Linked DNA regions of Homo sapiens. The protein of the gene in region 1 purifies or fractionates together with the protein of each later gene. This does not show direct contact. Each region holds a gene or a part of one and is shown in the gene's direction. Other genes may lie near its edges.

Region 1 (3,500 bases):
TATAGTACTGCAACAACTTTTCTCCATACGTTATAGGTCCCCTCTAGTCTCTTTTTCTCCAGACAAGCAAGAATGGTCTTATATCTCAAATGGATTATTTATTTACAGGGTGGTGAGAGGGGTGAGAGGCAGTTGAGTGTGGTTATAAAAGGTCAACACGAGAGATCCTTATAGTGATGATGCTGTTCTGTATCTTGTGTCAGGGGAAACTGGACAAATTGTGGTACACTGGGATTATTTCTTGCAACTGCATATGAGTATACTTTTATCTCAATAAAATTTCAGTGAGAAGAAGACTACTATCCTGTTTGAAACTCTTCAGTGCGTTCTTCTTCCTCTTAGAATAAACACTAAAGTCCTTCATGTGGTGTTCTGTGATCTGCATCATCTGGCTTACCTCTCCAGCCTTGTTTATTTGATACCAGTTTCTTACTAGCTGTCTGTGTTCCAGACACACTGACCTTCTTTCACTGTCTTTAATATGCCGGGTTCTTCTCACAGCTTTCCTTCTGCCCAAGATATTGTTAGGATGTCACAAGATACCCAGCATTTCTTTTTATAGCAACCATAATTTCTATACACACGTTTATTTGTGTGGTTATTTAATTCATACCTTTACTATACTCCCTGGGGGCAGGGTCTGTGTCTTTATCCCCAGCACACAGTACATGTAAGAAATGAAAGACACTGTTTTTCTCTGTCAGCCCTTTCTGTCTTATTGGCATTTCAGGAGGACCTTGGATACACAGGCCAGGAGAGTAAGGTCCTAATCCAGAAATCTAACTTAGGCTTTCCTCTCAGACCATGAGTTTGAATTTCTCTCATATTGAGAGATACGATACCCTATCTAAAAATGAACTCTTTCAGGTCACAGGGGCATTTATTAGAGGAGGGACAGAGTATGACTGAGCAAGGTGAGTACTCTTATCCTGATGTCTGAATCTACCAAAGATCCACCTCAGGCTCTGGCTTGCTGCTATCTGGGAGAGGGCTAGCTTTGGATATTTGGGTATGTGGAGTTAATTAACTTGGAGCTGAAATTCATCGGCTTTCTGAAGGATCATGGCTCTTTTCATTGGGGTGACAGAATCCTATGTTGCCATACGGAGTCTTGGCCTACCAAAAGTAATGTCTCAGTTGTATGAGTGTGGGTGTATGATTTGGTGACTAGGAATTGCTAGTGTTCTTAGTTGTGAACAATAGAATCTACCCCAGGTAGTTTAAATAAATAGTAGGAGGTATTGGTTAGCATTTACAATTTTTGCACATGGAATTTCTGGAAAGACCAGACAATTAATCTTGGAATCTGACACAGGTGGAAGCAGTGCAATCAGGAGAAATGCTCAGTGACACTGAAGGACTGTTTGGGCAGAGGGCCACGGCTGCTGCTGCTCGCCGTGAAGTTAGAGATCAGACATCAGAACTTCTGCTAAGTTGCTGCGGAAAAACCATATGCCTTCCTGACTGACTGTGTTTGATACAAGAGCTCTGGCTTTCAAATTACAGTGTGCCACTTCAGGCTCTCAAGTCCTGCACAGGTGTACCTGCTTGGTAGAAACTGTGTCACATGTGAGACCTCGGCTGCAGGGGAATCCAAGAAATACAATTTTTTTAGCTCTCCAGTCTAGTGTGCAAGAAAGTGTGCTAGAACCCGATGCTATGTGAGCTATTCTTCCTTGTCTGCTATAGAAGGTTAAAGGTTGACAGACTTCCTTTGCCAGTGAATGTTTTACTTGAATTTAGTGCAAATGATTGAGCTTGGTACTACCTATTAGGAATTTAACATGGAAATATATAATGTGAAACAACGTCATGATGTTCCTTTAGATTTTCAAGTGGTGGATTTTGCCTGTACTGAGTTATGTAATTTATAAATCTATATGGTTTTGCATAATAGCCATATATTCGCATACTCATTTGTGGAATGTTGTTATGACCACCAATTGTGGATTATCTCGTACTAACATGAGACCTAGTCATACAACATAGCCTAAGACAGTCAGATCAGGGAGCTCACAGACTTGATGTGGTAGTGTTTTTCAATAGAAGTATGCATTAAAATCAACTTGTTAACAAATGTAAGTGTGGGACTCCAAGTTTACATGTGTAGTGTCTGCCACATCCACCAGCATTAAGTTCCCAAAGGAGGAAGGTATACAGAGAGTCAAGGGATTTGCTTTTTTAGCACACTTTCATGTCAATTCTTAATGGTTCTTCCTTGGTGAAGAACCACTTATTCAGTGGGTCAGTAGTAACCATTTTATTTTGTTGTTGTTGAAAATGTTGGACTGTGTTTAAATTTGCAGCCATTATTTCCTACTTTAAAGAGTTTTGAAAATGGATGCTTCTTTTACAGGGGCAGAGTTACCAGGGCAGGTTATCTCCATGGCAGCTTCTACTCTGGCAAACTTGGCCATCTCTATCACAGGGTATGAATCAAGCAGTGAAGACCAGCCCTCCACTCAGCCTGCAGGTGACTGATGTTCTGGTGACATTCAAGGTTATTCTGGAAAATGAAATGTACATAGAAAGTAAAATTCAGGACACCAGCATCACAAAATGCTACTTACTCCTGCTGATCCTTCATTTATTCTCTTTGGTTCCTATTTTTATGCCCTTTTCCCTCTCATCTTTGTTCTCATATATCACTTTTTAAATACATGTAATTATGTAACTTCTTGAGTTTCTTACCTTGGTTCTTTGTTCTTTCCTTTTTAAAAAAGGCTTTTCTTATTTTTCTTCTGTTATTCATTGCTTTTGTTTTTCTTATTTTCCTTTTCTCCGTCTCCATTTACCTTTCCCACATTTCCCTCCACTTTACGCATATCTTATCTTGATTTCTTATTTTCCATTTCTTTCTTCTACAACTGTCAGTTCTCCTCCATGATTTTATTTTGCCCTATCTCTTCCTGTTGTTTTTTCTTTCTTTTGTTCCCTTTTCCCAACCCTTTTTTTGGGGAAGACTTTTATTTTCCATCTTGCAGTCATCCATTTCTCTGTCATTCTTTCTCTGAAAGTTTGCATGCTTCATGTGTTAATATATTGACCCCTCAAACAGACCCCTCTGGTTGTTTTGGACTCGTTGTCCTGTGTGGCCTGGCTTTGGGAATTGCAGGCTCCTGAGGAATCCAGCTGGTAGATATACCAGCTGTAGAGTCATGCTGTACTCTTGCAGAGTTCCAGAATGTAAAAGGCCACCTTAGTCTGTGCTGAGAGATCCATTAGTGCCAGAGGTATTTGGAGTTAGGGAATATTTAGAGTGAATTCTCCTTGAAGAACTGACTTTAGAAATGTCAGCTAAGATAAAGGAATTTGGTGTAGTAGGAACACTTATTTTTCTTGCACATGGAATTATGTTTCCAAAGTGGAGAGGAAATGATATTTTGGTTTTGGACTCATTCTTCCAAATATCTGTCACACCCACCATCATGAAGTTTCCAAATTAGAAAGATAACTCAGAGCAAAGTCAAACAAAAGCATCTGTTAACTAGCTTGGGCTT
Region 2 (4,235 bases), on another chromosome or scaffold:
CAGAGGGCAGAGGTGGAAGAGGGATTTTGGGGTTGACTGAGAGTGGCTGGTGTGGCTGGTGTCTATCTTCCTTCCCTGGAAAGTTTGCCCAGAGCCTGCAAGTTTCCTCAGGAGACAAGCAATGTTATAATGCGAATAACATCTAACATTTGTTCAACACTTGCTATGGACCATGCATGTTTTATGTCTTTTTTTTTTTGAGGCAGGGCCTCACTCTGTTGCCCAGCCTGGAGTGCAGTGATACAATCACAGCTTACTGCAGATATGACCACCTGTGCTCACACAATCCTCCCACCTCAGCCTCCTGTGTAGCTGGGACCAGGCACGTGCCGCCAGGCCCAGCTAATTTTTTAATTTTTTATAGAGATGGGGTCTTGCTGTGTTGCCCAGGCTGGTCTCAAGCTCCTGGCCTCAAGCAATCCTTCCACCTTGGCCTCCCAAAGTGGGCCACTGCACTCAGCCATGTTTTATAAGCCTTCACATGAATTGTGTTGTTTAATTTTATGTAGCATGACGGAGCCACTCTAGGGAACCCCTGGACTCTGGGTACTTTGTGCTAACTCTGTCTGCTCCCCAGCTCACATCTGCCTCCCTGTCACTAACCTCCTCCTATTTTCCACTCCGCCTAGTCTTCTCGGTCCCAAAGCCTGCATGGTAATTTCTAGCTCTGCTTTTCCATCTCAAGCTCTCAATCTCCAGCTCTCTATTTCATTTCCATCCTCCTGGGGCAATGCTGCTTCAGACCATTCTGCCAGTAATGATTTCCCATTGTCCAACTCTGGAAGCTTCTCATTGGCTCTAGGGCTCTTCTACGAACCACCTCCTCCTATGGGCACCAGCAGCTAAATCACATTTGAAAAATAAAATAATAACAAATAATAACACTGCATATAAAAACATAAGTGGCCAAGACATAGACAAATAACTTTTTTAAGTGCTGTGTCTACAGAGACACAGCTGGGAAGTTTACAAATGGGCCCACCGAAACGTATTGTTTCCTGTTTATGCACTGAGTCCAGAGGTTTGCGTTACTAAATTCTAAGTGAAAAAGAGTTTAAATGAGGCCATGATGTGGGATAACAGCAAATTAAAATCTTGCCCTTTTCCTTGGTTCCTCCCTTTGGTTAGCTCAACTGCAAAGTTAGTGTTGACTTTGTCATCTTCTAAAATTCCACCTCTGTGGGTGCTTGTATTTCTGGAACGTTCACCAAAAATAATAAGTTTGAACTCTCTCCCCTGGTGTTAATTCTGGGTTGTTTGGAACCCAGTTTATCTGAAGGAGTCGGTCTCTGGACTTTCTAGTAAAGGGTGAGCATAGATGTGTGGAAAAGGGGGTGCTGTTCCTTTAAATTCTGCAAGTGAACTTGACTCAGGAAGGCCAGCGGCTCAAGGTCCAGCCCCTGGAAGAGAGAATAGCTACAGATTCTCCATCCTCAGTCTTTGCAAGGCGACAGCTGTGCCAGCCGGGCTCTGGCAGGCTCCTGGCAGCATGGCAGTGAAGCTTGGGACCCTCCTGCTGGCCCTTGCCCTGGGCCTGGCCCAGCCAGCCTCTGCCCGCCGGAAGCTGCTGGTGTTTCTGCTGGATGGTTTTCGCTCAGACTACATCAGTGATGAGGCGCTGGAGTCATTGCCTGGTTTCAAAGAGATTGTGAGCAGGGGAGTAAAAGTGGATTACTTGACTCCAGACTTCCCTAGTCTCTCGTATCCCAATTATTATACCCTAATGACTGGTGAGTACCATGTCCTCTTCTGGGCAGGGAGGGGAGGGCTGGCATCCAGCAGGGAACAGTGAGCTCCTGGCATTGGAGTCTTATTTAAATGCTCTGGATTCTCTAGTCCTTTGGGACATCAAAGGTAGATAAAAAAAATCTGTGTTCTTGGCTGAGAAGACTTTTGTTTTCGTGGCGGTATTGTTTCCCAAAAGTTATCCCAAGGACCTGTTTTGGATTCTCAGTGCGGAGGACAGAGAACTATAGCAGTACATGATATTTGACGATATTAAAAGTGGTCGTTTATTTTAGAAAGAGAAATTCTAATGAGGCTCATATTTTCTAAGTTCAAGTCTGCAAAAGCAACAGGTGTCCGTGCATGTGTCCCAAACTCCTTCTGTCCCTTTTCTCTGTGGTCATGTCATCCTGGCACCCTGTGGGCTTGTTTCTCAGTGTGTTGGACTGTGAAAGTACCTGTGGGGTCCTCAGAGGGGAGTGGTGCTCCCGGATTACTTGGGGAAGGGGGGATGTTTAGGTCATATCCTTCCCTGTGACTTAGCAATGCCACCTTCCCCTTCTTTTGCCTTTTTGGCCAGGTAAAATGATACGGAGAAGAAAAAGCTTGTGTCGTTCAGGTTCCCCATTTGTGATTTGCAGCATCTACAAAAGACCAACCAGCAAAAACTCCACAAAACAAACAAAAACCTCGGCTAACCCAGACTGCCTGGGCTTGGGATAGCTGATTTTCCTAAGGACGGCCTTCATCTGAAATTGCCAGGACTCCAAACGCGACTGCATGAACCTGAGCCTCTATCCGTGCGATAATAGAATGTGCAGCCCTCTCTCTGCTCACAGAGTTGGATTCCCAGTTTCTGGTTTGTTTTTCAGCTATAACCTTTGTAAAGGCAGCGAGAGGCTCTCAGAAAGAATTTAGCAAACTATCCAGGGAGGCTGCTAAGAATGCACTGTTATTGCTGGTTATGCGGGACTCAGCTATGCACTCTGAGCACAGAGAGAGCTCTGCTAATTATGTTAACAGAAAGAAAATGAGATCTCTGATATCTCATGGACCTCCACAGAACACTAAAGCCAAAAGAGTCTAAAACAGACATTTATATCTCTGACTTTGTGCATAGATACTATATACACATGTACGGAAAAATGCCATAAACTGATGCCCCAAACTGAAGGGGAGAGATACTTCGGAGAAATAAAAATGAGGGCATGAGAGAGAGAAAAAAATCAGACTGCACACAAGCAAGGAAGTTATGTATTTGTTTTTTATTTCCCCCAGCAGACAAAAAAACAGTCTCTAAGATAAACAGAATTAACAAAATTCTCTGGCCCTCCCCTGGCATGTGTCTCCCCTTGCAGGGAAGCAGTTTGCAGGCTGCCGGCTCTCACATAGACGTGATTGTGTGGACAGCCGACTCCAGCTCTGTGCAGCGGCTTCACACACACAGCCCACCCCCACTCCAGCTGTCTTTCAGAGCCTTGCCAGGGGACCCAATTCATAAACTGCCACGCCACGTGCAGCTTCTGCAATCTTAGTGGAAAATGAACAAAATCCATCTTAGAAAGGACTCAAGTAAGTAAAAGGACCATTACAGACTCCACAGAGACACTAAGCCAATGACATGGCCTTTTGTTTGTCAGATCCACACTCCTGATATTGGCACAAGGAATAATTTGCACACAGCCTCCGTCATGCTGAGACACACCTTCTTTTCCGGCTGTGGGTGTTTTCCCTTGTGCTGTCCTGAGAGAAGGGCCCCTTCCTTTATGGGCAGCACAGGTCCCGTGAGTGTCTGACAAAGATCTCACCCTTGCTTTCAAACTGAGGCTGGCCCGAGGAAGCCACAGGTCTCCATATGTGTTAAGTCTCTGTATTTTCAGATGGCCAAATGTATTCACTGATGTGGAAGTCTGCTTGGTCTATATGTTTCATAGAAGCTACCCTGCACAAGGGAGGGATCTAGCAAGGCTCATGTTTCTGTACAAATGTCCTTGGGTATGATTTGTCTTGTACCTACTGGGCAGACTTGCAGACTTGAAGCAGAATTCGCAGGCTGGGAAATGCCAGGCCATGAACCTGGTATCACCTCCACTGTCTTGGAACTGACTCAGAGTTAAATTTAGACTATTTTCCCCAATACCCATACTTATTTTTCCACCTGATGCTGAAAACCTCCTCTTTTACTCATATAAAGAAGGATATAGCCATTGGGAATTGTAGCTAAACATATGGTTTGAGCATTTGAGCATTTTATGAACCAACAAAATTGCTATGCTAGATCTTTTTGGAAGCAAAAGATATGCTGTTTTAGGGTTCCTCAGCATTCACAAGAGAGGCTAAGCTCTCACTTCATTACCCGAATTATTGCTCAGAATACAGAAAGCCCTTGGTGTTCTTCCCTTTGCATAACGAGGAGTGATGAGTTGTTGGAAAGAATGCTGGCCCTTGAGCTGGGAGAACTTGCTTGGAGACTTCAGGCAAAATAAAATGAGATGAACTGCCGGGGCTGC

The links. Proteins that work in one complex are often made in the same cells at the same time.
Region 2: the proteins of TMEM245 (region 1) and ENPP6 purify together in Homo sapiens (co-immunoprecipitation; one large-scale study listed by IntAct). This does not show direct contact.

What each region holds. Positions count from the first base shown.
Region 1 is NC_000009.12:109,092,448-109,095,947, reverse strand, and holds part of TMEM245 (transmembrane protein 245), read left to right. Parts: intron 1-2,356; coding exon 2,357-2,473; intron 2,474-3,500.
Region 2 is NC_000004.12:184,215,074-184,219,308, reverse strand, and holds the start of ENPP6 (glycerophosphocholine cholinephosphodiesterase ENPP6 precursor), read left to right. Parts: upstream 1-1,435; 5' UTR 1,436-1,489; coding exon 1,490-1,730; intron 1,731-4,235. UniProt on the Homo sapiens protein: Choline-specific glycerophosphodiesterase that hydrolyzes glycerophosphocholine (GPC) and lysophosphatidylcholine (LPC) and contributes to supplying choline to the cells.